Homo sapiens: one gene and its partners. The protein of the gene in region 1 purifies or fractionates together with the protein of each later gene. This does not show direct contact. Each region holds a gene or a part of one and is shown in the gene's direction. Other genes may lie near its edges.

Region 1 (4,770 bases):
GTCTCTTTCTCTCTGGGAATGTAAGTTCTAGGAGGATGAGGACCGCTAGTCGTTCCAGTGAGCCCCCTGCATGTCCCAGGCACTGGCCATGCCCTCCAGGGCTTCCGTTTGGCCAGGGAGCAGTGGCCCGAGCCGCCCCATGCCCAGCATATTCACACAGTGCTGTGGGGAGGCCACCGCTACCCAGGAAGAGGGGTGCAGTCAGCTCAGGGAGACTCCACAGAAGAGGCACCGGTGCAATGTGGTGGGAAGGATGAGGACCTTGCCAGGCCTAATTCGTCCTTGTCTGGAGAACTGGGCGCCTCCTCACTGTTCCCTGGGCTCCCTGGACAGAACCTGTCGGAGCTGGACACCAAGATCCAGGAGAAAGCCATGAAGGTGGATATGGACATCTGCCGCCGCATCGACATCACCGCCAAGCTCTGCGATGTGGCTCAGCAGCGCAACTGCGAGGACATGATCCAGATGTTCCAGGTGAGGACGGAGCTGCCCTCTGCTCTCAGGGGTGGGTGGGGCAGGTGGATGCTTCCGTGGCGGCTGGCCTGGAACGCAGGCCCTGCCTCCTGCTTGGGGAGCCTTACCTGGCAACTGGGGCCCTCACGGGGCTAGACTGGGGGGTAAGGAGCAGCATCAGGAGGGGCATCGTGGAAGCTGTCTCTAACGCCGTCTCTCCCTTCCCCCTCTCTCTCCTCTGTCTGCTTCCTCTCCTCTCTTCCTCTCATCTTCTCTCTTGCTTCCTCCACAGAAGAAGCTGGTTAGTTTGATCTCACGCAAGCTTATTAATGTCCCAGTCCCAGTTTCTAAGCTGCCTAGGCCTCCTGGCCCTCAGTTTGGGCCCGCTGGGCTCTTGAGCACGGATTTTTTTCTGCCCTTTCCCTTTTCCTTGCTCTTCCCCCTTTTTCTCTCTATCTCTTGTTCTCTTGACTGCATTTCTTTCTCTCCCTTCTCCCCCGGCTTTCCAGATCTGGATGTGATTCAGGTTCTCTTTTGTACACATTGCACACTCATCCTCCTTGCGTCCTAAAGCTTTTTTTTTTTTAGTTGAGTCATTTAATCAAAAAGACTTTTTTTAGAAAAAAATTTCCTCTTGAGCCATCATGCACATCTGACTGCAGCCCCAGCGAGCCCTTCCTTCCTTGTCTGACTGCTCTTCTTCTCGATTTCTTCTTGTTCTGCCTTCTCGGTTTGCAGCCCTGACCCCCGCTGTGTGTCTGGCCCTTGGTGACTGTCCGTGTTTCTGTTCCTGTCATTGTAACTGTGACTTTTCTCTCTGTCTGCCCCCCCTTCCTACTGGTTCATGCTTCTCCCCCATTCCCACCCTCTCTGCCCGGCCTCCCGCTCCCGCCCTTTCTCCTCATGCACCCGGCCTCGTCTCTGTAGTCTCTGCACTTGTCTCCCATTAAGGTCCCATCCATGGGGGGGCGGAAGCGGGAGCGCAAGGCTGCCGTCGAGGAGGACACCTCCCTGTCGGAGAGTGAGGGGCCCCGCCAGCCCGATGGGGATGAGGAGGAGAGCACAGCCCTCAGCATCAACGAGGAGATGCAGCGCATGCTCAACCAGCTGTGAGTCCGCAGGCCGTGCTCCCGCAGCACCGACGCCACAGCAGCCCAGGAGGCCGGAGCTCCCCAGTCCCCCGCCAGGACGAGGCCCCGCCCGCCCTGACACCCGGGTTCCCTGTCTCTAGGAGGGAGTATGATTTTGAGGACGACTGTGACAGCCTGACTTGGGAGGAGACTGAGGAGACCCTGCTGCTTTGGGAGGATTTCTCAGGCTATGCCATGGCAGCTGCAGAGGCCCAGGGAGAGGTAACCTCTGCTCCCGGCCTCAGGGCCCTCTGGCTCTGCCTCTCCAGCCTGAAGCCCACTCCCCCGCTCCTCTCCTTGCTCTGTCCCCCCATGTGGCTGTCATCCTCTACCTGCGTCTCCCCTCTTCCTTTATCCTTTTGCTTTTCTTTCTCCAGTTTCTTTAACCAGACTTCCTCTCTCTCTCTCTCCCTGACTTGGCCCTTTGGAATGCGTCCCATCCCATCCCTCCTTGGCTGGCCTCCCCCGCTTCCCTTTCTACTCCAGCAGCAGGAAGATAGCCTGGAGAAGGTGATTAAAGATACGGAGTCCCTGTTCAAAACCCGGGAGAAGGAGTATCAGGAGACCATTGACCAGATAGAGGTAAGGGCAGGAGCGGAAGCCAGGGGCGTGGTGTCCCAGAGGGTTTTGAGTGGGGCTGCAGGCGCAGTGGCCTCATCCCTGCTGCAGGACCCTAGAGACCAAGGTCTTGGGAGGAGGAGTGATCTCTCAGCTATAGTCCTCCTGGTGGGCTCTGAAGACCTCAGGCTCTGGAAACAGACAGATATCGGTTCAAATCTCAGCTCTGTTACTTACAACCACCCTGAACTTGTAATAAGTTACTTGTTCCCTCTGAGCCCCTCCTTTCCTTTCCTTTCCTTTCCTTTCTTTCCTTCCTTCCTTCCTTCCTTTCTCTCTCTCTCTCTCTTCCCCTCCCCCTCTATCCCTCCCTCCCTCTCTCCCTTGTCTTTCTGTCCTTTCTTTTTTGAGACAAGGTCTCACTCTGTTTCACTCTGTTGCCTAGGCTGGAGTGATCCTCCCACCCCAGCCTTCTGAGTAGCTGGGCCCACAGGTGTGTGCCACCATACCCAGCTAATTTTTATTTGTATTTTTTTGTAGAGATGGTGTCTCCCTGTGTTTCCCAGGCAGGTCTTAAACTCTTGGGCTTAAGTGATCCTCCTGCCTCGGCCTCCCAAAGTACTAGAATTAGAGACATGAGCCATGTGTCCAGCCCTACACCTGTTTCTTTTTCTTTCTTTCTTTCTTTCTTTCTTTTTTTGAGACAGGGTCTTGCTCTGTCACTCCAGGCCCACTGCAGCCGTGATCTTCTGGATCCAAGCAATCCTCCTACCTCAGCCTCCCAAGTAGCTGGGACCACAGGCGTGTGCTACCACGCCCGGCTAATTTTTTGATTTTTTTTACAGAGAACAGGGTGTCACTATGTTTTCCAGGCTGCCCTCAAACTTCTGGATTCAAGCAGTCCTCCTAACTCGGCCCCACAAAGTGTTGGGATTACAGGCATGAGCCACTGTGCCGGGCCTTTTTATTTGTAAAATGAGGAATTTAATAATACCTCACCTATAGGGTTGTTTAGAAGATCAGATGAAATAATGCATATATAGAGCTTAGGGCAGTGTCTGGCTCATAGCGAGTGTAGCATAGTGGGGACTGTTTTATTATTATTAACACTATCAGTGCCATGGCACTCAGAGATGGACTGGGACTTTCCTGTTTCTTCCACTCAGCCTTTGAGATAACAGAGAAATCTCCATGCTTTTTCCCAAGCCTTGAAGTACCTTCTAGAGGTACCTAGAGGCAAGTGGAGCTGGTGCTTTAGCTCAAACTCTAGGCTTTAGGAGCTGCAAGAAGGATTTGTGGAGGCCGGGCGCGGTGGCTCACGCCTGTAATCCCAGCACTTTGGGAGGCCGAGGCGGGAAGATCACGAGGTCAGGAGATCGAGACCATCCTGGCTAACACGGTGAAACCCCGTCTCTACGAAAAATACAAAAAAAAAAAATTAGCTGGCCGTGGTGGCAGGCACCTGTAGTCCCAGCTACTCGGGAGGCTGAGGCAGGAGAATGGCGTGAACCCGGGAGGCGGAGCTTGCAGTGAGCCGAGATCGCACCACTGCACTCCAGCCTGGGCGACAGAGCAAGACTCCGTCTCAAAAATACAAACAAAGGAAGAAGGATTTGTGGAACCACAGAATGGAGGTTGCTGTTGCTGTGGGAGGAGGGATGGACGGGACCCCCGTGAGCTCTCCTGGCCTGGTGAGGTGGTCCTTTCCCGACGCTCTGACTTTGGGAGAGGCATGGAGCCTTCTCTGCGTCTCAGCCTCTCTTCAGGCCCACATGGGAGATTCATACGTAGTCCCCCCTTATCTTCAGGGCATGTGTTCCAAGACCCACAGTGGATGCCTGAAACCAAAGATAGCACTGACCTCCTGATAGCTTGGGTCCAGTTGCTGTCAACTGGAACGTGTTTCTGTTCATGTCTCCCACCCACACATTCAATGCCTTTTCTATCTTAACTAAGCACTTAGCGTGCGCTGTGGCGGTACCTTTTGCAGTTCGAGGTGTGACAGCAAAACTGGCACAAATTTCTTTTTCCTTCTTTACAATTTCACGGATAGAAGATTCATTCTTACTGTAGAGCTTACCAACCTCAGCATCGGATTCTTTTTCTTATTAAGTTGAAAACTTTTACCTTTTCACTTAAAGGGAGCATATTTTGGCTTCTCTTTCACATATCCAAATTGCCAGCATCACTACTCTTGTGCTTTGGGGCCATTATGAAGTAAAAATAAGGGTTCCTTGAACACGGGCACTGCCATACCACGACAGTCAATCTCATCACTGAGATGGCTCCTAAGTAACTAATGGGCAGGCAGTATAGACAGTGTGGATCCTTGGGACAGAGGGAGGGTTCATGTCCTGGTCTGGATAGAGTGAGGTTTTTTTTTTTTTTTCCGAGACGGAGTCTCGCTGTGTCACCCAGGCTGGAGTGCAGTGGCTTGAACTCGGCTCACTGCAAGCTCCACCTCCTGGGTTCACGCCATTCTCCTGCCTCAGCCTCCTGAGTAGCTGGGACTACAGGCGCCCGCCATCACGCCCGGCTAATTTCTTTTGTATTTTTTAGTAGAGATGGGGTTTCACCGTGTTAGCCAGGATGATCTCGATCTCCTGACCTCATGATCCGCCCACCTCGG
Region 2 (4,770 bases), about 94 Mb from region 1:
CAGGAGATCAAGACCATCCTGGCTAACACGGTGAAACCCTGTCTCTACTAAAAACACAAAAAATTTAGCCGGGCGTGGTGGCGGGTGCCTATACTCCCAGCTACTCGGGAGGCTGAGGCAGAAGAATGGCATGAACCTGGGAGGCAGAGCTTGCAGTGAGCCGAGATCATGCCACTGCACTCCAGCCTGGGCAACAGAGCGAGACTCCATCTCAAAAAATAAAATAGAATAAAATACAAAATTAGGGGCCGGACGCTGTGGCTCACGCCTGAAATCCCAGTACTTTGGGAGGCCAAGGCGGGCAGATCCCAAGGTCAGGAGTTTGAGACCAGCCTGTCCAACGTGGTGAAACCCTGTCTCTACTAAAAAAATACAAAAATTAGCTGGGCGTGGTGGCGGGCGCTGTAGTCCCAGCTACTCTGGAGGCTGAGGCAGGAGAATCGCTTGAACTGGGAAGCAGAGGTTGCGGTGAACCGAGATCATGCCACTACACTCCAGCCTGGGTGACAGAGTGAGACTCTGTCTCAAAAAAAAAAAAAAAAAAAAAAAATTAGCCAGGCGTGATGGTGCACGCCTATAATCCCAGCTACTTGGGAGGAAAATCACTTGAACCCAGCAGGCGGACGTTGCAGTGAGCTGAGATCATGCCACTACACTCCAGCCTGGGTAACAGAGTGAGACTTTGCCTCAAAAAAAAAAAAAAAGGATTATTCATGAGGCAGAGAGCTTATAGTGGCCCATTTTTTTTCTTCCAGAAATAGCATCCCAAAACCTGACTTTACCATAGTATTAAGAAAAAGGTTTGTAGGTAGATAAATGTTTATATTTTTATTTTTATCAGTATTTATCTTGATAAGAGAGAAAACATAATGAAAGAAGTACCGGAGAGTATTTTAAATAGCACCATCATAGACATAAATACAGTCTTGTTATAGCTTTGAAAATGGGAAAAGCAGGAGAAAAAGTGTTTGATATCAGTTTAACAATTAATTAATAAAAAGTTTTCTGGAGTCTATAGTATTTAACGTTTTACAGCTATATTTCACTTTGTTTCTTTACTTACCTTGGGCTGCAATCATTTTCATGAAGAGATTCTCATTTACTAAGTATACTTTGCAGTTCTTTTACAGTATGATCATAGTTCTTCATAGATGTAATATGTGTAAATATATATACATGCAAAATACATATACTTTGATTTTCTTTAATTATCTTTAGTTAATAACTTGTTCTAAATTTGAACATTGTTAATTTTTAAAGTGGAAAATTTGGTCTTATAATTATTATAAAAATTCATCTACAGTTTTGTGGCTCATATGTCAGATAATCTTACATTATAGTTATGTATACAAAATAATTTTAGGCTATTAGAGGTTCATATTTATTTTTATATATCAACAGGGTTCTATACTATTTCTCTTCAGGGAGAAAAATATTTGAACTCACAACCTATTTATAAATCCTGTCTCCTTTCTGGCTTCTTTAGTTATTCAAGTTCAAAGGACATACCACATCTTTTAGGAGAGGCACCAGAGCACTTAGAGTACTAAATAATATCACAGGGGCTTCTACAAAGATGTGCTTTATTTCTATAGGATATCATATTAGTCCCTTTTCACGCTGCTGATAAAGACATACCCGAGACAGGGCAATCTACTTACAGTTCCATGTGGCTGGGGAAGCCTCGTAATCGTGGTGAAAGGCAAGGAGGATCAAGTCCCATTTTACATGGATGGCAGCAGTCAAAGAAACAATGAGGAAGCTGCAAAAGCAGAAACCCCTGATAAACCATCAGATCTCGTGAGACTTATTTACTACCACCAGAACAGTATGGGGGAAGCCACCCCCATGATTGAATTATCTCCCACCAGGTCTCTCCCACAACACGTGGGAATTGTGGGACTACCATTCAAGATGAGATTTGGGTGGGGACACAGGGCCAAACCATATCAGATATATAACAGTGTATACAGGGCCCACATTTGTTTTGTTTTTAATATATATAATATTCAAATAAACTGCCTTTAAGAGTTAACTACATTTTCTAAAACAAGGGCTATAAATATGTTAAATATAACTTCAGATATTTACTGAGATATATTGGGTTCATATTTGATTTGTGTATAGTTTTACAGTTTTTTTGTTTGTTTTTTTGTTTTTGTTTTTGTTTTTTTGAGATGGAGTCTCGCTCTGTTACCCAGGCTGGAGTGCAGTGGCACGGTCTCAGCTCACTGCAGCCTCTGTCTCCCGGGTTCAAGTGATTCTCCTGCCTCAGCCTCCCAAGTAGCTGGGATTACAGGCATGCGGCACCACGCCCAGCTAATTTTTTATATTTTTAGTAGAAATGGGGTTTCAGCATGTTAGCGAGGCTGGTCTTGAACTCCTGACCTCAGATGATTCGCCTGCCTCGGCCTCCCAAAGTGTTGTGATTACAGGCATGAGCCTAGTTTTACCGTTTTTAAATTTTAGTTTTATTCTTAGGTAATTCAGAAAATATTTTAGGGAAAATATATTATTGATGAAAAATAAGATGTACTATGGTTATTTTTCATGACTTTCGACTGAAAATACTTAGATTTTTGTGTGAAATTTCCAGTATTTAAATTGGCAGTGATAAGGCAGTTTCGAATCTTTTTAGAGCTCTACAGTAGTCGCATCTGCCCAGCAAGTGAAGACAACGCAAACTTCAAATGCTCCTGATGTAAATGATGCAATTGTGAAACTATTCAATGATTTTGATGTTAAGGAAACCTCCCATCATTTAGTGATTTCTCATCTAGATCTACACATATGTGATGACATTCATGCTAAAGAAAAAGGTAAAATAACTTGCTTATTTCAAACTATTTTGGTTTTTCTAGAATTGACTACAAAACTGGATTGTTTATTAAATCTGTTGTGTAGGATGTCCTGTAAGATAATTTGTCATAATTGTGTTCATATGAATATATAGATGAAAGGCACAACTGGAAGCATATATTGGTATGAAATTTTATTTTGCTTTAGCAGTACTTAAGCTTAATTATTTGTTAGCTATCAATGCTAACAATAAAATTAGCTTTAAAAAAATCAGACTGAATAGATGATCCTCTAGGAGGATGATGAAATATTAGACTCGCCTTTGAATTAACTTTTTGATAATGTTGAAATTGTCTCCAAATTAAATTTTAGTCCATACTTAATTCATAATTATTTGTAGATGTGTTTTCAGCATTGCAGTTTTTCTACCTATTTTGAATAGAAGCACAACTGTGCAACTATTTAACATATTTTATGGCCACCTCTCTTCCCATCCTTCCAAAATTTGATTAGGAAGCAAAATTCCAGTTAGGAATTTTCTTTTAGTTTTTGTCCCTGTTATTTTTCCTTATTTAGTAGATGTAGTTCTGTAATCTAGGCGCTGGGCGTTTTTGTTTCTCTGCTGGAGAGCATCCCTGGCCCAGAAGTGTTGGGGTTGAGTTCAGCAGGTAGGCCTACCTTAAGGACTATAATTCTCAAACTTTGGTGAGCATTAGAATCAGGCTGAAGACCTTTAAACAATAGAGTTATCTGATCTCTGTGCCTCAGATCTGAATCAGGATCTATATCTACAAAAATTTTTGCCATGTGTTTTTAAGCTGAGAAAGTGAATATTGAGACCCTGGATACTTAGCAGTAGAAGTTACCCTGCCTTCATTAGACAAGGCAGCCTAAAAGATTCCAGCCTAAAAGGTTGGAGGGGCAAAGGTGAGGAAGATTCGGGGTTTGTGGAGGGATTTGTTATCTTTTGTTCTGACTACCATTGTGTCATTTGACTTATAGTTGGCATCTTTTACTTTAGAGATTTGAAAGGAAAATCCAAAAAAGTTAGAACAAACCAAACTAAGAAAATGAGGTGGTCAAGATTAAGTAGTAAGAATGAGAATGGAGAAAGTGTTTTCTAAGGCCTTACATTCCTCACTATTCCCTGATAGAATAAATTGAATGATTTTATTTAGGAAGAAAACCTTTTCACCAAAATATCTCCTTAATAGTACAGGTCTGTAATCACTATTGTGAAATCCAAAAGGCTCTGAAATATTATAAGTTTGTGAAAAACTCATTTGGTGGCAAAACCTGACTTATGCCAATACTTTTTTTTATTCTTTGCCTGCTTCCTATAAATATTTATGTTTTGCTGCAGAATTGCTATTTTTATTAGTGCTGCCTCAGAACCTGCTGAGAGTGTTGCATGGTATATCCTGTATATACCGTATCATATTACTGTCGTGAAATCTAAACATTTCTGAATTCTGAAACATTTGGCTTTCCAAAGGTTTTACGTAAGGGATTGTAGACCTGTGCTGAAAATTCTACTAGTTGAGATAAATTGGATTTTACAAATTAATATAGGGAGTGTATACATAGCTATGTCTCAGTTAGTATTTTTCTTTCTTCTGATTGATTTGCCCATTTTGTTTTAAAATTTGATTTTTATGTTCACGTTATACCAATTTGTAATCTACTTTTGATTTTACTATAGCTGTGTGACTTTGGACAACTTACCTAACCTAACAGACTTTTAATAATTTCCCTTTTTTTTTTTTTTTTTTTTTTGAGATGGAGTCTCACTCTGTTGCCCAGGCTGGAGTGCAGTGGCTCAAACTCGGCTCACTGCAGCCTCTGCCTCCCAGGTTCAAGCGATTCTCCTGCCTCAGCCTCCCAAGTAGCTGGGACTACAGGGGCGTGCCACCATGCCCAGCTAATCTTTGTATTTTTAGTAGAGACGGAGTTTCACTATGTTGGCCAGGC
Region 3 (4,770 bases), on another chromosome or scaffold:
TGAAGAAAACAGAAATCAATGTAGAAGGTGTTGCCAAAAATAACAACATTGATATGGAAGTTGAGAGACCATCAAACTCTGAGGCACATGAAACTGATACTGCTATAAGTTACAAGGAAAACCATCTAGCAGCTTCATCAGTACCAGATCAAAAACTGAATCAACCCAGTGCAGAAAAGACAAAAGATGCAGCAATTCAGACAACCCCTTCTTGTAACAGTTTTGATGGGAAACACCAAGATCATAATTTATCTGACTCCAAAGTTGAAGAATGTGTGCAAACTTCAAATAACAACATATCAACTCAACACTCATGCTTAAGTTCACAAGATTCTGTAAATACCTCAAGGGAATTCAGGAGTCAAGGCACCCTAATTATACATTCAGAAGATCCGCTTACCGTAAAAGATCCAATTTGTGCACATGGTAATGATGATCTTTTGCCTCCTGTAGATAGGATTGACAAAAATTCCACTGCTTCTTACCTAAAGAATTACCCACTTTATAGACAGGACTACAATCCCAAGCCAAAACCTTCAAATGAAATTACACGAGAGTATATACCCAAAATTGGCATGACTACTTATAAAATAGTGCCTCCCAAATCCTTGGAAATATCGAAAGACTGGCAATCAGAAACCATAGAGTATAAAGATGATCAGGACATGCATGCTTTAGGGAAAAAGCACACTCATGAGAATGTGAAAGAAACTGCCATCCAAACAGAAGATTCTGCTATTTCTGAAAGCCCAGAAGAGCCACTGCCAAACCTTAAACCGAAGCCTAACCTGAGAACAGAGCATCAAGTGCCCAGTTCTGTGAGCTCACCTGATGATGCCATGGTTAGTCCTCTGAAACCTGCTCCCAAAATGACAAGAGACACTGGCACAGCTCCTTTTGCACCAAATTTGGAAGAAATAAACAATATTTTGGAATCAAAATTTAAATCTCGGGCTTCAAATGCCCAGGCCAAACCCAGCTCTTTTTTTTTGCAGATGCAGAAGAGAGTATCGGGTCACTATGTGACATCTGCAGCTGCCAAGAGTGTCCATGCTGCCCCTAATCCTGCTCCAAAAGAACTGACAAATAAAGAGGCAGAAAGGGATATGCTGCCTTCTCCGGAGCAGACTCTTTCTCCCTTAAGTAAAATGCCTCACTCTGTTCCACAACCCCTTGTTGAAAAAACTGATGATGATGTCATCGGTCAGGCTCCTGCTGAAGCCTCCCCTCCTCCCATAGCTCCAAAACCTGTGACAATTCCTGCTAGTCAGGTATCCACACAAAATCTGAAGACTTTGAAAACTTTTGGTGCCCCACGACCATACTCAAGTTCTGGTCCTTCACCGTTTGCTCTTGCTGTAGTGAAAAGGTCACAGTCTTTCAGTAAAGAGCGCACCGAGTCACCTAGTGCCAGTGCATTGGTCCAACCTCCAGCCAACACAGAGGAAGGGAAGACTCATTCTGTAAATAAATTTGTGGACATCCCACAGCTTGGTGTGTCTGATAAGGTAACTGTAGCCTTTTTAAAAATAAGTATTCAAATTTAATGACATGGTTTAATGGGGGTTAACAAGCATGTTGATGTTTGTGTGCTACTTAACTCTGAACTCATATTCATCTGAAATTAAGCTATTGTAGTGAAGAGAGTGGTGATACATAAAATCTGATTATTTGCTCACAATTATAACTTATATAACTTGTTTAGGTATTACTGTAAGGTCATCATTATATAATTGTGTCATTAGCAAATGTTTTAAAGTTTCTTTGCTCATTTGTATGATATATTTACTAGTTAATGGTTCTATTTTCCTGTGTTATCTTAATTTGTTTTTAACTTGTCTAAATCTTCTGGTTTATTCTCCAATTTTACATTACTATGTAATAGTAAAGGAAATAGTCTTAATGAAATGGAAAAATAATAGTATGAGAGGCTAGACAAAATAACTGAGCATCTCTTAGCTATGTGATTTCCATCATATACACTCAACTTCAGCTTGCATATATTGTACATTTTCACATATAAATACATTGAAAGCAGAGTTTTAAAATGTAATTTTCTTAATTCCCCATTTTGTTAATTCAGTGTCAACTTTCAACTATAATATGTATGTTGACCAAACTGTTATCTAACCACTATCTAACCTTAAATATTTACCATAAAGGAATGTTGTTGACTTAGTGTTTGGTCAACTAAATGTTGTATTTTGCTAGCTTCAGATAATAGAGTCAAAGGAGAAGATGAAATTCACAGCATGATTTATGATAATCCTCATGCAATTTTAAAGAAATACTTTGTGTACTCTTACTCTGATAGTGTTTAAAGAATACATTCATATTTGTGTGACAGTTCCAGAAGTATTTAATATTACTTTTTCAAACATTCCTAGAGCAAAAGAATGTTAACCATATTGCCAAGTAAATATTTTTCCATAATTGTATAACAACATTTATCTTAATATTTTTCATGTATTTTACATTTATGTTTATTACTTTGATATAGCATCAGGAATAGAAGTATGATACAAAGATTAATTCTTTACTTGGGCACAAAGCCTGTGATTTTTCTTGGAATAGAATACCATTCCTAAACAATGGAAGCTTGGTTTAGATAATAAAGCTTTTAAGTCATTGCCTGAGCCCTGTTTGGCTCATTTTTTGGTAAAGATACGTATTTGGCAGTTTGAAAAAGACATTTAAGATTACTTGATAACATATGCCACTTACATCAGTTACTAAATATTCCTTCCTGAGAAGCGTAATTAAATTTTTTAGTCTTCAGTTTGGAAGTTCCTAATTTTTTATATTGATTCTCATGGCAAAAAATAAAACATGATTAGCACTTAGTCCATGTGACTTCCAGAAACACAAAATAAGCTACTAAGTGTAGCATAGTAATTAGTATTCCTTTATTAGAAGATATATTAGATTCAACAAATATGACATTGTCTATTTGACTGTTTTGCTCATTTAAAAATAGTAATTTCATAGCCTGGTATGTTGAAACCATGAAAATGGGTCATTTTTTAGTTTGCAGTATTTTTTAAAATCTTAATTTGGCTTTTCTAACCAGTTCTGTGTATTGGTGAAGTCAGCAGTATTTAACTCAAGAACAATAAAATTACCACTGTATTTATGAAGCAAAGAGTGGTACCACTTTTCTTCTTTGGCTTCCTGAGTTCAAGAGAGAATAATGCCCTCATCTTCCAGCTTAGCTCTGGCAGCAGAGATAATTCAGTGGGTGAGGAAACAGAGCTGTGTCTGAAACACCAGTGTGGCAAATGGTGATTGTTAAAGAACTATTGATGATGAAAATGTTTTGCAAAAAATGGCCCATTCTTTTCTTGGCATTCATATAAATATTTCACATTTATTTTTGTAGGAAAATAACTCTGCACATAATGAACAGAATTCCCAAATACCAACTCCAACTGATGGCCCATCATTCACTGTTATGAGACAAAGTTCTTTAACATTCCAAAGCTCTGACCCAGAACAGATGCGACAGAGTTTGCTGACTGCAATCCGTTCGGGAGAGGCTGCTGCCAAATTGAAAAGGGTAAGTCTTCTTTATCAGATGGGTGACAGTGGGTTTATTGTCACCATTGTCAAACTAATACTTAGGGAAAAATTTTTCTAGCATGTAAATCTAAATAGGGTTCCCAAAGTTACTCTTCTGTGTCTTTGAAGTATAAGCTGAAAGAGTTCCAGAGTCTTACACGTACTTGAAAAATATGTCAGGTCTATTTTCCACAACATGGGCCAGTTGCAGAACATGAATTTTGTTCATTCTTACATAACTATATAGAGAATACCCTGGACTCTGATTTTAAGAGATTATGTTAGCACCTCGAGAAAGACTCTTTGGAAAACACCTTCCTGTTCCAAAAAAGGTACATTAGTGATAGGAACCTACAAGTTTGTAGTCATAGCTCTTGCCATGATTAGTTACTAACATATATGAGGCTTAGGGAAGAGTTTTATAGGTTAAACCAAAAAAAAGTGCAGAATATCTAGAGAATGTAGATGATAGATAATACAGAAATTCAAATCTTAGTAATGTCCTGCCAAAGTTGTCTAGCTCCTCCTTACTGTGGGGTAGAAGAAGAAAAAAAGAGGAAGTCTGCTTTTTCTCAGGAAAAACACCCAAGTGTCACAGGGAATTCTTTTCAGGTGAATTTCCTCCTTGGGTTCCCTTCATCCACTGAGAAGAAGATGTGGTGAAGCTTTGAACAAGGCATCAGCACTTAGACTCCCCAGAGAGAGTCCTCTCCCTAAACCTCTCTTGTCTTCTCCCCTTAATTCTCCTGGTTGGAAGCACCTCCGCATCTAAGACAAGGAAAGTACTTATTATTCCATTAACTCCCGAGGCATTTCATTTTGTGAATTCCTTCTGTGATCATTTTAAAAGCCATTTAGAGAATAGTAAGAGACTTGTTGAGCAAAACATTGAGCTCAACAGAAATTAAACCTGCAAAGGAACAGGAATGCTACAAAGATAGGAAAAGAAATGGGGAAAGGCTTTCCGGGCCTTTCAACCATATCAACATTGGCCAAACTTGACTGCATAAGCCAACTTCCTTGGTGTGTATGTGAGGAGGTATGAGTGACAGCCATTCCTCCCAGAGGACTTGGCACCCTGTCTGGGCAAACATGGAGACAAGGCAGAATACTGGGTGCTGTCAGGAGTGGAGGAAACAGGAGGGAATACTACAGTGGATTAGATTTGAATTTTGTAAATTATTTGTAGAGTCTGATTTTAGGTGCCAGGCA
Region 4 (4,770 bases), on another chromosome or scaffold:
AAAAACCAAATCCTAACTACTGGTTTTCTCAGTCAAGTTTTTCTGTGGGACATAATTTAAAGGTAGCTAGAGATAAGAGGGTAAGTTCGTAATTGCCATTTGGTAGTTGTTGTTGCGTTAACAGCAATTGGGTATTAGCAACTGAAATTTGTTTGTCTTTTTCTTTGCATTTTGACATTTATTATAAAGGCAAATATCACATAGAATTCTTTCTCGATAAAAGTGATTTTGTTTTGTTGACTAAAATAACCTTTGATTTTAGCTAAAGAATTTGGAGCTACTATTATGTTTGGTTAAGATGAACTAAAATTATGTTAGCTTATAGGACAGCAGATCCTTCATTGCAAGTCATTTCAGACCTGATTGGAATCCACCCAGATGTCCCTCAGTTGAGAACTGGTTAAATAAATTAATGGCACATCTGTACAATGGAATCTTATGGAGCCATATAACTACTTTTTGAAGGCAGCTTTATATGAATTAAATTTATATGAGGTGATATGGAATTCATAAGTAAAAAAGGTACATAACAGTATCAAGGGCATATTTATGTAGGGGAACACACACACATACACATGTATATGCTTATCTAAGCATAGAAATCTCTGAAAAGCTGTGTTAGGAACTGGGAAGAATAGCTCTGTGGAGGGGAACTGAGTGACTGGGAGTACAGGGGTAAGGAGTTAACTACACAGCCTAATGTGTCTTTCTAAATTTCATACTATGTACTTGTATTATATATTTGAAAAATAAAGTGTAATAGGAAGGGGGAGACAGACCAAAAGAAATCAATCTGCCTTGTAAGATTAAAAAGAAAGAAAGAAAAGGAAGAAAAACTTAGGTTTATACAGTCCAGACCTGCTTTTGAGAAGCAGGTAGAAAATAAGTTGTCAGTGATTTTTATCAAGTAATTCTTTTATTTCATAATTTTTTTTTCTGTCTAGGAAAGATAGCTCTTTAGGGTAAATGTAAATAGTGTGATCCCTTTACATATATTCTGAGAAGAAAATGCAAAATTAAGAAAAGTCACAAAATGAAAAACTACTTTTTCTTTTTTCTTCTGTAAATTTAAGCATTTAGAAAACAAAAATGTTTGTATATTCTATGACTCTATTCCTGGGCGTTGGAGCATTTCTCTTTGTATACTTTGAGTGAAGTCCTTTTGTTGTTGTTGTTGAGACAGAGTCTAGCTCTGCCACCAGGCTGGAGTGCAGTGGCGCAATCTTGGCTCACTGCAACTTCTGCCTTTCGGGTTCAAGCAATTCTCCTGCCTCAGCCTCAGGAGTAGCTGGGATTACAGGCACGTGCCGCCACGCCCAGCTGATTTTTGTGTTTTTAGTAGAGATGGGGTTTCACCATGTTGGCCAGGCTGGTCTTGAACTCCTGACCTCGTGATCCACCCACCTCGGCTTTCCAAAGTGCTGGGATTATAGGCATGAGCCACCGCACCCAGCGGAAGTTCTTTTTTTCAACCTCTTCAGTCTGGATCCAGTTGTATATGGCTTTTGGTTTTTTGTAAGTTTCTCTTTAAGTGGACTCATCAAGAAAAATAATAGAATGGATATTTAGGTTAATTTTACTGATAACCCGATTGATATAGTGTAGTTCTCTGATAACAGACTCATCATCAGAATTTACCAGCATAAATGAAAGCCTGCCAAGGCATATTAATAAAATAGGCTGATGGAAACTAATCAAATACATTTTATCTTGTTTCTTATGAAAACACTTATAAGAAAATACCTATTTTTTAAAAAAAAGTGAGTGCTAAATTCAGGATGGTTGACATCAAAAGTCCCTTTATTTAATCAAATTAAGTTCACAGTCTTTTTCCCTTGTCTAATTTAAACATTACTATAGCAGACAGGGTTTGCTGAGTTCCTCTTGGCATGTGGTGCATATTCTGCATGCTTCTAAACAATTAAATAAAATTTGCCAAGAGGGTTATGCAGCAAATACATGAGATAAATGTCATCAGAAGAAACATCCAGTCCTTCACTTGCAGAGTGTTAGATCTCAGGGAAACGTGTGTGACATGGGGGAAGATGTGAAATTACTTTTGGAGAGGTTAGTTCCTATGGATGGCGTAGTAATGATGTGCTTATAGTCCCCTCACCCAGAGCTAACCCTGATCAGCAAGGACATTATGATATATGTAAAGAGAACACTTACCAAATTTTTATATGTCTTAACAAGTTATGAAAAGAGTTTTGGGTTTTTTTTTTCCTCATGGGTTTAGATTTGCTAGGTGAAGGTGCAAAATTTTGTTTTAATGGAAACTTAGATGGGGGGAAAAAAGATTTCTGTAAGGAAATAGACAACACACTTTTCCTGTTAGGACCTTAGCCAACCCAGAATTCCTGTATTTTACTTCAGAGGAGTTTAAAGGCTTAAATACATTGTTCCTGCATTCTAGTGTCTTTGTGTTTTTCTGTTAGAGTCAGTAATTTTGAACTCGCTCTTGCTTTTCATCCATTTCAACCAAAGCAAGATGAACTAAGGTTTCCAGAACAAATCTGTTATTAATAGAGTGTTTCCAGAGTACTTTTTTGTGCTGTTTTTAACTACTGCTACATTGAAAAAGAAAAAGGAGCCAGAAAAAAATCTGAAAAGTAATGTAACATTATGTTTTAAAGTAGGTATTTTGATGAATTTAAGATTATTCATTTTTCACCTTCTGTGTGTAAACTGTCTTGATTTCTTTTTTTTCCCCCACCCCGAGATGGAGTATCACTCTGTCGCCCAGGCTGGAGTGCAGTGGCACGATCTTGGCTCACTGCAACCTCTGCCTCCTGGGTTCAAGCGATTCTCCTGCCTCGGCCTCCTGAGTAGCTGGGATTACAGGCGTGTGCCACCACACCCAGCAAATTTTTGTATTTTTAGTACAGACAGGGTTTCACCATGTTGGTCAGGCTGGTCTCAAACTCCTGACCTCAGGTGTTCCGCCCGCCTCAGCCTCCTAAAGTGCTGGGATTACAGGCATGAGCCACCGCGCCCGGCCTTGATTTCTTTCAAAATAACCAGGCCACTACTTACTTTTCTGTCTTCTTTTTCTCCTTTTTTCTTCTCCCCTCTTCCTTTTCCTTCCTGCCCAGTTTTATTTCATCTGAATTTCCTTCAGTTCTTGAGACTGTCTTGACAATACTGAATATTACAAAGAAGCATAATATTAATAATAAACCCCAATACCAAGAAAGAACCATTATTATTAGTTGGCTTATTTCCTTCAACCTCTTGGTTAGGATTCTTTCTGTTCTGTGTTCTATTTGTACCCATTTACCACTCTGCTTACTAAGGAGCATGCCGCAATTATGGATGTGGCCTACTACCTGGAATTCACTGACCTATTGCCCACCCTCCATCCTGAAGCTCTTTCTTTCTTTACAAGGGTCAGCCCCTGGACAAGAGGTTGTATTCCCTTACTGAGTCTTATTTCTACCTTTATCTTGATCAGCCATGATAACCGGTTGGCTCTGTTTTAGTCCTTTTCACCCTTGCTATAGAATAACATTTATATAATTTTAATTAGGTAGATTCCAGAGCTCTTGCTGTGCTGTAATCCCTACTTGTTTTCAGAAAAGCACTATAAGACTGTGAAACCCTCCAGCCCCCAAATTCCTGCTTATGTCTAAACTTAGTTAACTTTCAATTAGGCCCAGACTGAATTCTCAGTTTATTTTGGCAGAATGAAACCCTTTTAAATTGTTTAAAGAAGGGTTTCAGTTTAGAATTTCATGTTGGGTAGAGCAGAAATGTTTTTAAACCAGGGGTTGGCAAACTTCATATAAAGGGCCAGACAGTAAATATTTTAGGTTTTGCAGGTTATATGATCTCTATCATAGCTACTCAGCTCTTCTGCTCCAGTGCATTCATAGCCATAGACAATCTGTAAATGAATGAGCATGAGCATGTTTCAATAAAACTTTATTTACAAAAATAGGCAGTGGGTATAATTTGCCAACTCTGTTTTAGGGTGGGCTGTAAATCTCTAAAGCATTATATGATGACAAACTTACTTGTTTAAGCAGAAATGTTAAGTAGTTAAATATTTACTTTCCATCACATGCTATAAGAAATCACATACATATTAAAGGCTGAAACACAAAATGAAAGATATAAAGATACTCAGTGATATTCAAGCCCATTGGCCATAATACAAAAGACTGACAAATTTGACTGTATTAAAATTAAGATCACAAAGCACACTATAAAAAACAAATGACAGACCAGAAAAAAATTGCATTCTGTATGACTAGCAATTGCTATGATTTCTCTGCACCCATAAGAAGAATAACCCCCTAAAAAAGGAACAACAGATAGAAATTCACAAGAAAAGATATAAATGGTCAATAAACAGGAAAAGATGCTCATTCTTATTAGTAGTGAAGTCTCTATATTAAAGGGAAATTTTTTGCTGCCAAATTTATACATTTGAATAATTAATAATAGTGTATTGGGGGATAAAGGGAAATAAACAACTGAGGATGATTGTGATAATTTTTATTAGTTATCTATTCTTATACAATAAATTATCCACAATTTAGCAGCTTAACACAACCAGCATTTATTATCTCATAGTTTTCATAGATCAGGAATCCAGGAATGGCTTAGCTGGTTGTTTCTGGCTCAGAGTTCTGTAGAGGTTGCTGTCCAGCTGTCAGCCTGGGCTGCAGTCATTGGGACTGGATGGTCCACTTGGAAACTCACTCATGTGGATGTGGACAGGTCCCAGGTCCTCACTGCCTGTTGGTCAGAGACATCAGTTCCTCA
Region 5 (4,770 bases), on another chromosome or scaffold:
GTTACTAGCCAGGTGCGGTGGCTCCCGCCTGTAATACCAGCACTGGGAGACTGAGGCAGGAGGACTGCTTGAGGCCAGGAGTTCCAAAAGTATGTTTCTAGAATACCCGAAGGTAGCAAAAAAGTGGAAAAAAAAAGTGTTTAGACTCTTGGGGAAAAAAGAGCAGGAGGAAGGCATCAAAAATCTTATCTATCTGCTTTAAGTACTGAGTTGTGATCTCTTCGTGTCTTGCTTTCTCATCAGATTAGGTGTTTTCCAAAGCTAAGGATTATGCCTTCCTCCTGGGCCACAGTACTGATAATGAGAGTAGGCTGGAGTAATCAAGAAAGTTAACTTTTAAAACAGAACTCAGTGGTTCTCAGATATGAGTATGCCTGAGAATCAAGGGGGAGCTCAGGAGTAATGCAGATTCCTAAGCCTTGCCTGCCTCTCTCAGAGAGGTTGATTTAGGGGACTTCCATGGAAGCCAGGAGTTGCCTCTTTTTTTTTTTTTTTAAATTTTAAAAACAAGCATCCAGTAATTTTGATGCAAGAGGACTGTGGAGCACCTTGGACACTGACATGACCACAGGATTGGGAGCTAAAATAACCACACCTGTGTTCTAGAACAAAAAGTTCCCCTCTGATTTTCAGTGATCAAAGAGCCCCAGGAATTTGACTCAATGATTGTAAGTTGACCTTTCCTTCAAAGTTGTACAGAGAAAACCCTGTGAATGACCAGATCATAGGGAGCAATTTCTGTAAAAATTATAGACATGAAAAGATTTTTGAGAAATTACCTCATCTGTCACCAGCCTTGATGCTGAGTGACATCAAATCTGTTTTATATGGATGAAAATTTATTCCTATTTTAAAAGACAAGTAGTAAAGAATATTCTCTTGATGTAACCAACCTTAGCTAGGCAGCAGAGCTGCATGCTGATGGAAAAATCACATTTTTTTTTTCCTCCTAACAAGGTTTAGTCTGTCCCCAGGCTGAAACAGAAAAAGTGGCTTCTGTGACTAAGAAACATAACATTAAAAATATGCAGTGTTGATGGTAGAAAAGGGGGCTTTTAATATGGAGAATTTTTATTCTGGTTTTTTATTTTTTCATTTTAGATTTATGCATAAATTAAATAAAACTTTAAAGATTTTGGTTTTGCAGGCAAATATAATCTTATGTTTATAACTTCTGCCACTTACCTTAGAAATGAGCATAAAGCCATTGATTTGTATTCTTGCCCACTCATGTTAAACTCTAAAGGTCTAGGAAGGAACCCAATTTTGTTTACACCAAAATCCCTTTTCCCTCTACTCTGTAGAAGGAAGTCATCTCGTGCACTCTGCTGTTCAGCCTCATTTATTTCCTTCAGAGCACAGCACATAAAGTACTGTTTGTTTCCTTGTTGCTGTTCTCCTTCACCATCCAACTGTAAGTCGTATGAGGAAGGGACTACAGTTTCCCTCACCACTGCATCCTCAGTTCTCACAGTACTTGGAACATAAGAGGCATTCAATAAATGGAAATTTTTGTCAAGGATTTCTTTTTCTTTTTTTTTTTTTTTTTTGAGATGGAGTTCTGCTCTGTCCCCCAGGCTGGAGTGAAGTGGTACGATCTCAACTCACTGCAACCTCCGCCTCCCAGGTTTAAGCAATTCTCCTGCCTCAGCCTCCCAGGTAGCTGGGATTACAGGCATGCACCACCACACCTGGCTAATTTTTGTATTTTTAGTAGAGACGGGGTTTCACCATGTTGGCCAGGCTGTGTCAAGGAATTCTTTATGTCACGGTGCAAGGTGGAGGAAAGGCCAAGCAGGTTGGATCTGGAGGGCTAAGTTTTAGTCTATTTCTTTGCCTGTTTCTGCATCTAGAAATGGAAATTTTATCTGCTTTACCTTTAGGGTAAAAATGAGATCATGAATAAACATGTTTAACATAAATTATACAAATGCTTTGTGGTATAATTTTGAAAACCAGGGTTTGCTTGAATTTGAGATGGGAAATTTTATTAGAGTATCATAACTGTTTTAAAGTTAACCTCTTAATAAGACATTCATTCTAGTTTTTAATGCAATTGTGGCACAAATTTTCTTTGTACCTTTACTGGAAAGTAGGTATTTAAAAATGTTATCATTGGAGGGATTCACTTTTAGGAAATTGTAGGGTGAAACCACGGTTTCAGTTAATCCTCCCCAAAATGAAAATGCCTTAGGGTAAGTTCACAGATAATTGTTATTTTCTACGTGTAAATGTGCCACTTAACTACCTTAGTCCCTTATTAAGATTTTGATAAATACTATGGTTTTCATAATTAGTGTAATTTGTCTTAGAAATTTGAAACTCAACATTGTATAGAAGGAAAAAGTAAATCCTTAATATGTAGAATTTCTATTTTGTTTTTTAATTTTCTGTTTCAGATTAATGGTTTTAAGAAGTACAGCTTTACTTTTGCAAAGGTTTTGGTTCTACAGGGAAATTATAATCTTATGTTTGTTTATAACTTCTGCTATTTGATTTAGAAATGGGCAAGATGTCATTAACTTGCATTCTTTTTCCCTCAAGGTAAACTGAAGGTCAAAGAAAGGACAACATTTTGTTTAAATCAGAATTCTCTTCATGTACTTTCTAGCAATAGATAGATAGATCCATAAAGATTTGTTTATGTTCGTATGAGAAGTTTGAACTTTTTTCTTAGCAAGAACATTTTCATAAGATATATTTTCCATGATTAGAGTATAAATAATGCTGGGAAAAGACAAATTTGGTTGTTGTGAACAGTTATTACACAAAATCCATTAGTTCTGAAACCTTTATTAAATTTTATCACCTATCAGAAGTAGTTGTTTAGAAACCGGCTTGTTAATGGAGAATCAATGAAGTTGCACTTAGTTCTGGCTACAGCTTTGAGGGACCTGACTGTGGACACTGCCATTTAGTGGCCTCCACATACGTATGTGTGACTGAGTTGGTAGTGACTCTCTCTAGTTATTTGGTACCTAGCTCCCATATTCCATACTTAAAAGTGTTTATTTTAATACTTTTCTGTAATTAGTGAAGATACAAGGATTGCTGCTACATTTATGAAGTATGTTTCAATACAAGTTTTTATTACTTTTGGAAAAATATATTTCTAAAACTAACATATCATAATTTTTACTGAGTTAAATGCCATATATCTTTCAGAGGATCATAAAACAGGAGTTGGGGCAGTCATTTGGGCAGAAGGGAAATCTGTAAGTATGAAAACAATTCTTTAAATATTTAACCTGGATTTTGTTTAAACATAGTTCAGTCTTCGGTGCATTACAGGTTACTGACTGCCAAGGCGGGCAGATCACAAGGTCAGGAGATTGAGACCATCCTGGCTAACACAATGAAACCCCATCTCTACTAAAAAAAAAAAAAATACAAAAATTAGCTGGGCGTGGTGGCGGGTGCCTGTAGTCCCAGCTACTCGGGAGGCTGAGACAGGAGAATGGTGTGAACCCGGGAGGCCGAGCTTGCTGTGAGCAGAGATCGTGCCACTGCACTCCAGCCTGGGTGACAGAGCGAGACTCCGTCTCAAAAAAAAAAAAATATTAATATTTTTGTAATGGTGCATTTATGAAGATCTATAAAGATTTGCTCATCCCTCAACAGTTTTCTAGATAGACGCATTCATTCAGCAAACATTTGTTAAACACTCTCTACAGGTTAGGCACTGTGCCACAGTGAATGCTGGGGATTAAAGATCACATTTTATGGCCTCATAGTTTAGTGATGGAGATGTAGAAGTAAAATATAACTGATATGTAAGTGTAATTATAACTGATATCATGAGAACATAGAGGAGGAACCTTTGCTTGGAAAAATAAGTAAATACTGTTGGTGAATATTATTAATGTTACTAATATAATATTCTTGAAGAATAAGATAATTTCTTCAGACAGAGCAAGTCAATAGGACCAGGAGGATAACATGAATATTCTTGGTGAACATTCTTTTTTTTTTTTTTTTGAGACAGAGTCCCCCTCTGTCACCCAGGCTGGAGTGCAGTGGTGCAATCTTGGCTCACTGCAACCTCTGCCTCCTGGATTCAAGTGATTCTCATGCCTCAGCCTCTTGAATAGCTGGGACTATAGGCATGTACCACCACACCTGGCTCATTTTTGTATTTTTAGTAGAGATGGGATTTTGCCATGTTGACCAGGCTGGTCTTGAACTCCTGGCCTCAAGCAGTCCACCCTCTTCTGCCTCCCAAAGTGCTGGGATCACAGGTGTGAGCCACCATGCCTGCCCTGAATATTCTTAATATTAATATTAATAATGTTAAAATTCTTGAAGATTAGGAGGATATCATCAGGCAGAGCAAGTTAATGGGACCAGGAGAATAACACACAGAGACTGGGGTGAGAGAGAGAATATGGGAAAACGCATTTGATTTGGCACATAGAGTAAGCAACAAAGTGGACGGGACCATGAAGAACTCTATATTCCATGTAAAGATTTTGGACTTTATCCTGGCAGTGACATACTATAGCACAGCACTAACCAGTAGAGAGAAAAGGCAAGGCTCAAACTGAATTTTAAATTTTCTAGGTGTTATATATATATATATATATATATATATATATATATATAGAGAGAGAGAGAGAGAGAGAGAGAGAGAGAGAGAGAGAGAGAGAGAGAGAGAGAGAGAGAGAGAGAGAGTCTCACTCTGTTGCCAGGCTGGAGTGCAGTGGTGCAGTCTGAGCTCACTGCAACCTCTGCCTCCTGGGTTCAAGCAATTCTCCTGTCTCAGCCTCCCCA
Region 6 (4,770 bases), on another chromosome or scaffold:
TACAATTTTTTAGGAAGGGGACTAGGTCTTCCATTTTTTATTCTCTCAGTGTTTGTTATTTTATCAGCCTTGTAATAAGTGTTTATTAAATGCTTGGGGAATGAATCAATGAATGAATGAAGCAATCATCAATCAACAAGGAACAGATCTGCAAGACTAGATTTAAAAAAAAAAAAAGGAAAAAAAGAATGTTGAAAAATCTGTTCTCTGCCCTCAGGATTGCTGCTGGGGAAGGAGCACCATGAGCATGCCTCTGCCCCACTGCTGCCACCCCCACCCACCTCAGCACTGTCCTCCATAGCCTCCACTACGGCAGCCAGCAGTGCCCACGCCAAGACAGGCAGCAAGGACAGCAGCACACAGACTGACAAGAGTGCCGAGCTCTTCTGGCCCAGCATGGCCTCCCTTCCCAGCCGCGGCCGGCTGAGCACGACCCCTGCTCACAGCCCCGTCCTGAAACACCCAGCGGCCAAAGGGACCGCAGAGAAACTGGGTATGTGGGCTACCCCACCTTGATGCCCCTGAAAACTGTGGAACTGTCTGGCCTAAGAGAATCTTTTGTTGAGCTAGAGAGGAAGCAGGGGCACCCATCAGCTCTTACTCTATGGGGATGCTATTCTAATGCACTTAGGATATGTGTGCCCTTTCTTATTACGGGAATAAATATGCATATAGACACATCTAGTTTATTACTATTTGAAATGAGTGCACGGCTTGAGACTACCCTGGCAATGCATACTTTTTAACTAACCTTTCCCCGGATGGAGTGACAACAGACCCTCTAAGGGGCTGAATGCCCTCTGGTATGTTTGGGAGCCAGAATTAGGCACCAGGTACATCAAAGGCACAAGTTCACTGTTGCCTTCAGGGCTCTAACTTACCAGGGATTCTGGCCTCAGTGGAGGACATTGTGATGGAAGGAGAAGGTAGATTGACCTGCAGAGTCGGTTAACGTGTGGCACAGCACTTGGGCCAGGACTAACGAGCTGTTTAAAATATTTACGGGAAGACAACTTGGGAGAGGTGATCTTTGCAGTGAGTCCCTAAGTGTCCTGGGTAAGAATAGACCTGGCCTCTTAAGGCACTCCTCTTAAGCAAAGGAGTACCATGGCCATGGTCAGTGGGATCCCACAAATGTTCTTAAATGGGTAAGGCTTTAAGTAGCCAGAGAGTACCCAGCCTACCATTGGCTTCTCCACATCCTAAAACCTGAGACTAATCATGGTCATGGGGACCTCCCTTTTCAGGAATTCTTTTGAGGAGGTGCAGGCTCTGTGGGCCCTAAGTTAACTGTTTCCTCCAAGGGGGTTGTTTATTTCATTTTTCAAAGTAGACAAGTAAATACAATGTTGTCACTTTTTAAAGATGTGATTCTTTTCCAAGTAAGCCAGAGAACCTGTCAAAAGTGCCTAGCTCAGAATATGCACCTGATAGTTTTGAGTAGAGGGTGTGAGGGGCTCCTGTACAGAGTCCCACTGTCATCCTCACCTTCTGAATCCTCTCCCTTCACCATCCTGGTTTGTATTTGTGTCTGAATCCTGGCCCAGTCATTCTGCATGTTCCCACTGTGGGCTGGATCATCTCACATGCCCTGTGGTGAGAATCCTGGGTGTGCAGTGGTATCGGACGTGGGTCCATTTTAGAGAACCTGGAAAGCCTATGCCCCTCCTGAGGAATGGGCAGCTGATGTTTCCCCTCTATTTGGCAGAGAACTCTCCTGGCCATGGGAAGTCGCCTGACCACAGAGGCCGGGTCAGCAGCTTGCTGCACAAGCCCGAGTTCCCTGATGGAGAGATGATGGAAGTCCTCATCTAACTGCCATCCCTGTGGAATTTCAGTACAGAACACTGACAAACAAGGAAAGCGGCAGAGAAAGAAGAAAGACCTAGAAGGTTGTAGATGGGAAATCAGGAATGATTTGAACTGATAAAGATTTCAGACTCATAAGAACACATTTTATAAATGTTAAACACAAAAACTACATGACTGAAGATAGAAGAGAATGCGATGGATTTTATTACACATGGTGGAAGAGAGAAGAGGCGTGTAGGTTTGCAAACAAAGTTAAGAAATAGGAAACTGAATTTTTCATTGTACAGAAAATGTATCTCTTGGGGAGGGCCTGTGTACCCCCATTCTCTGATTATAAACAGATAAACCCAAATGTGGATCATCCTTGGAATACCCCCATTCTCCTTGCCTCTTAGCATGTTTGATTTAAGAAAAGCCTCCAGGAAATCTTGAGAGCCTGTCTTGGCATAATGCAGTGTCACCTGTGCCAACCATGGGGTGTCCCGTGAGTGTGAGTGTGGCAGTGAGAAGAAGCATCGAGGGCGAGGGGAATATGAAAGTTGGTCTTCACCTAATTACCTGTTTGGTTTGGATTTTCAAGAGATGATTGGGCTTCTTAGCTTTTCTGAATTCTGCAGTATTTTCTAAACAGGATAGATTATGATCTCGGTCCCCATCCATCCTAACTTCTGAGTTCATCTCTGTCTCTGCTTTACAGTCTTTAATTTTTTGTTGTTCCTTCATTTTTTTCTTTTTAATAAGACATAGCAGAATTCCTTAGGTATGGGATTTATGAGACCAGTACCTGAACTGTCATCATTCCTACTGTGTTTGATAGTGACCAGTAGGACAAAGCCACGTGCCGACTTCCTGGCTGCTTCACCTTTGCATAGCTGGGTTGCAGCTGCGAACCTCATTCTGACTGTGAACTAAGCAAGCTTTGAGGAGGCAGGAGATTCCGTGGGTCCCTGTGACATATTGCATTAAGATCGTGGCACTTGCTTTTTTGTCTTTCACATCGGCTGTCTTGCAAGGAGCTTGACATTTCCAAATTCCATTGCTCTGTTTGGGGAAGACTTAGGACAGCACTCCAGGAAACAGATGACAATTTACAGACAGTTGTCTCAGTGGTTTCCAGAATCTCACCAGCCTCCCGTATAGCTTCTTGTATTGAGGCTCATGAGCGTATTCACACTCTTTCCTCCCCCGCGCACGCCTCTGCTTGCTCTCGATCAGCATCCAGACCTCCGTGGCACCAGGTTGCCTCTGTTGTGAACTTCTTTTGTAACCTACCAGGCCAGTTGTATATACAGTGTTGTCAGGTTTTTCCGGGTTTCAGTTTTGAGGCAGTTTATTCAAAGTGAGACAGAAGTGCCACGGAAAAGAGGCAGGAGTGTGTTAGGTGGTGGGTCCATTAGACCTCTGCTGTGACATTGCATATTCAGCTCTGCAGACACTGGCTTCCTTTACAAATCTAAGAGATGCTGGATTAGAAAAGAGGAGAAGCTCATCGGGCCATCAGAGAGATGCTCCTACAGGGTCCTGATGTTTTTGTACCTCCAGGTCAGCTGGATCGCTGTTTTCCCAGTTCCCTTTGCTCATGCTTACTTAGAGGAAGAAAGAAAGGGGGGTACCTCTTCCAAGTACCTTCTAAATGAAACACTCAAGAGAGTGCTACTCAGGAAACTTTGCTTGGATCCTAAAATGGACTGGTCTTGGGTGTGTAACCCCGGTGAAGTTATAGCCTCCCCAAATTGAGGTGACAGAAGGAAGACAAGAGGTGTAAGCTGGAGAGGGAAGGGAAGAAATCAGTGGCTTTGGCCAGCCTCTGTGCCACCCAGTACGACAGAGGAGTGGGAACTGGCCCTCTGGGGCTCTGCTTGGCCATAGGCACTGCACATTGTGCCACCTGCTCATCACCTCCTCTAGTCTCACACTGAGCATCGGAGTACCTGTTGTGCAGACAGGAAAACTGAGGAGCTCTGAGAGGCTGAGCATGGAGCTCACCCCATGCCATAGGGTGTGGGAAGAGGGCACAGGAGGCCTCATCCATGGGGGAAAGGGTTGAGGATGGACATGGGTGGGGAGAGGGCATAGACATCCCTTCCTAATCTCTGTTCCCACCACATTTCATAGGAGATGAGTTAGGAGATGACAGCTAACTCTCTTAAGGACATTTTGACCCCAGTTTATGTTGGGGATGGACCAGAAAGGAAAATGTCTAGAGATAGGAAGGTAAATCAACTCTGCCAGCCCCTACCATCAGGTCTGGGCCACCCCAAACTTGGGCTGCCTCCCTTAGACATAGGTTAGAGTGAGAGACCCAGCTGTTTCTCCCGAAGCCTCGTCTTCATGCCCCAGACACCTGATTGCCCCAATCAGGTGTCAGACTTGCTTGCTCTTCGAGGTCCCCCTGAGCTGCCAAGTGTTTTCATTGTAAACAGACACATCGCCATGTTTCAGGGCTTCAACGGCATTGTATTTTGGACTTTGACCGTATTTTTTTTCTCTTAACCTACTGAGACTCTTCCTTAAGAACAGGATCTATAGCTTTAAAATGTCTTCTTCTATGGGAAATTTCCTGCCAAGCCAGGGCACTAAATTCTTTCATCATTAGAGCTTTCCTGAAGTCCGGCCATATACTGAGTACCTGCTCTGAGTTCTGGGCAGCTTACAATATCTTAAACAGATTTTCAGAAAAATAATGCAACTATATTTTCTAGTGTCAACTGTATGCAAACAGTGTGGTAAATACCTTTTAATTAGTCCTCCACCCACCTGGAGTACAGGGGGTGCGTTTATTATTCTGATTTCACTGATGAGGAAATGGGCTCAGAAAGGTTAAGTCCCTTCCTGAAATCTCACAGCCAGGAGAAGCTAGGATGATTTAAAACAAAGTTTGGAGAGGCACTGGGCATAGACCCTGGCTGTACAGCCTCTAACATGCGGCACTGCATCTTGGCAGTCTCTATGCCTGTC

Evidence for each region.
Region 2: the proteins of IFFO1 (region 1) and BLTP3B purify together in Homo sapiens (affinity purification with mass spectrometry, with the first as the bait; one large-scale study listed by BioGRID). This does not show direct contact.
Region 3: the proteins of IFFO1 (region 1) and COBLL1 purify together in Homo sapiens (affinity purification with mass spectrometry, with the first as the bait; one large-scale study listed by BioGRID). This does not show direct contact.
Region 4: the proteins of IFFO1 (region 1) and HMBOX1 purify together in Homo sapiens (affinity purification with mass spectrometry, with the first as the bait; one large-scale study listed by BioGRID). This does not show direct contact.
Region 5: the proteins of IFFO1 (region 1) and CDADC1 purify together in Homo sapiens (affinity purification with mass spectrometry, with the first as the bait; one large-scale study listed by BioGRID). This does not show direct contact.
Region 6: the proteins of IFFO1 (region 1) and AMOTL1 purify together in Homo sapiens (affinity purification with mass spectrometry, with the first as the bait; one large-scale study listed by BioGRID). This does not show direct contact.

What each region holds. Positions count from the first base shown.
Region 1 is NC_000012.12:6,545,460-6,550,229, reverse strand, and holds part of IFFO1 (non-homologous end joining factor IFFO1), read left to right. Parts: intron 1-333; coding exon 334-474; intron 475-745; coding exon 746-754; intron 755-1,380; coding exon 1,381-1,562; intron 1,563-1,684; coding exon 1,685-1,805; coding exon of another isoform or gene 1,806-2,069; coding exon 2,070-2,165; intron 2,166-4,770. UniProt on the Homo sapiens protein: Nuclear matrix protein involved in the immobilization of broken DNA ends and the suppression of chromosome translocation during DNA double-strand breaks (DSBs).
Region 2 is NC_000012.12:100,086,964-100,091,733, reverse strand, and holds part of BLTP3B (bridge-like lipid transfer protein family member 3B), read left to right. Parts: intron 1-2,638; coding exon 2,639-2,819; intron 2,820-4,770. UniProt on the Homo sapiens protein: Tube-forming lipid transport protein which mediates the transfer of lipids between membranes at organelle contact sites. Required for retrograde traffic of vesicle clusters in the early endocytic pathway to the Golgi complex.
Region 3 is NC_000002.12:164,691,007-164,695,776, reverse strand, and holds part of COBLL1 (cordon-bleu protein-like 1), read left to right. Parts: coding exon 1-1,508; intron 1,509-3,379; coding exon 3,380-3,556; intron 3,557-4,770.
Region 4 is NC_000008.11:29,011,979-29,016,748, forward strand, and holds part of HMBOX1 (homeobox-containing protein 1), read left to right. Parts: intron 1-3,056; exon of another isoform or gene 3,057-3,144; intron 3,145-4,770. UniProt on the Homo sapiens protein: Binds directly to 5'-TTAGGG-3' repeats in telomeric DNA. Associates with the telomerase complex at sites of active telomere processing and positively regulates telomere elongation.
Region 5 is NC_000013.11:49,271,126-49,275,895, forward strand, and holds part of CDADC1 (cytidine and dCMP deaminase domain-containing protein 1), read left to right. Parts: intron 1-3,165; coding exon 3,166-3,215; intron 3,216-4,770. UniProt on the Homo sapiens protein: Catalyzes the deamination of cytidine and deoxycytidine into uridine and deoxyuridine, respectively. May play an important role in testicular development and spermatogenesis.
Region 6 is NC_000011.10:94,868,981-94,873,750, forward strand, and holds part of AMOTL1 (angiomotin-like protein 1), read left to right. Parts: intron 1-217; coding exon 218-493; intron 494-1,708; coding exon 1,709-1,815; 3' UTR 1,816-4,770. UniProt on the Homo sapiens protein: Inhibits the Wnt/beta-catenin signaling pathway, probably by recruiting CTNNB1 to recycling endosomes and hence preventing its translocation to the nucleus.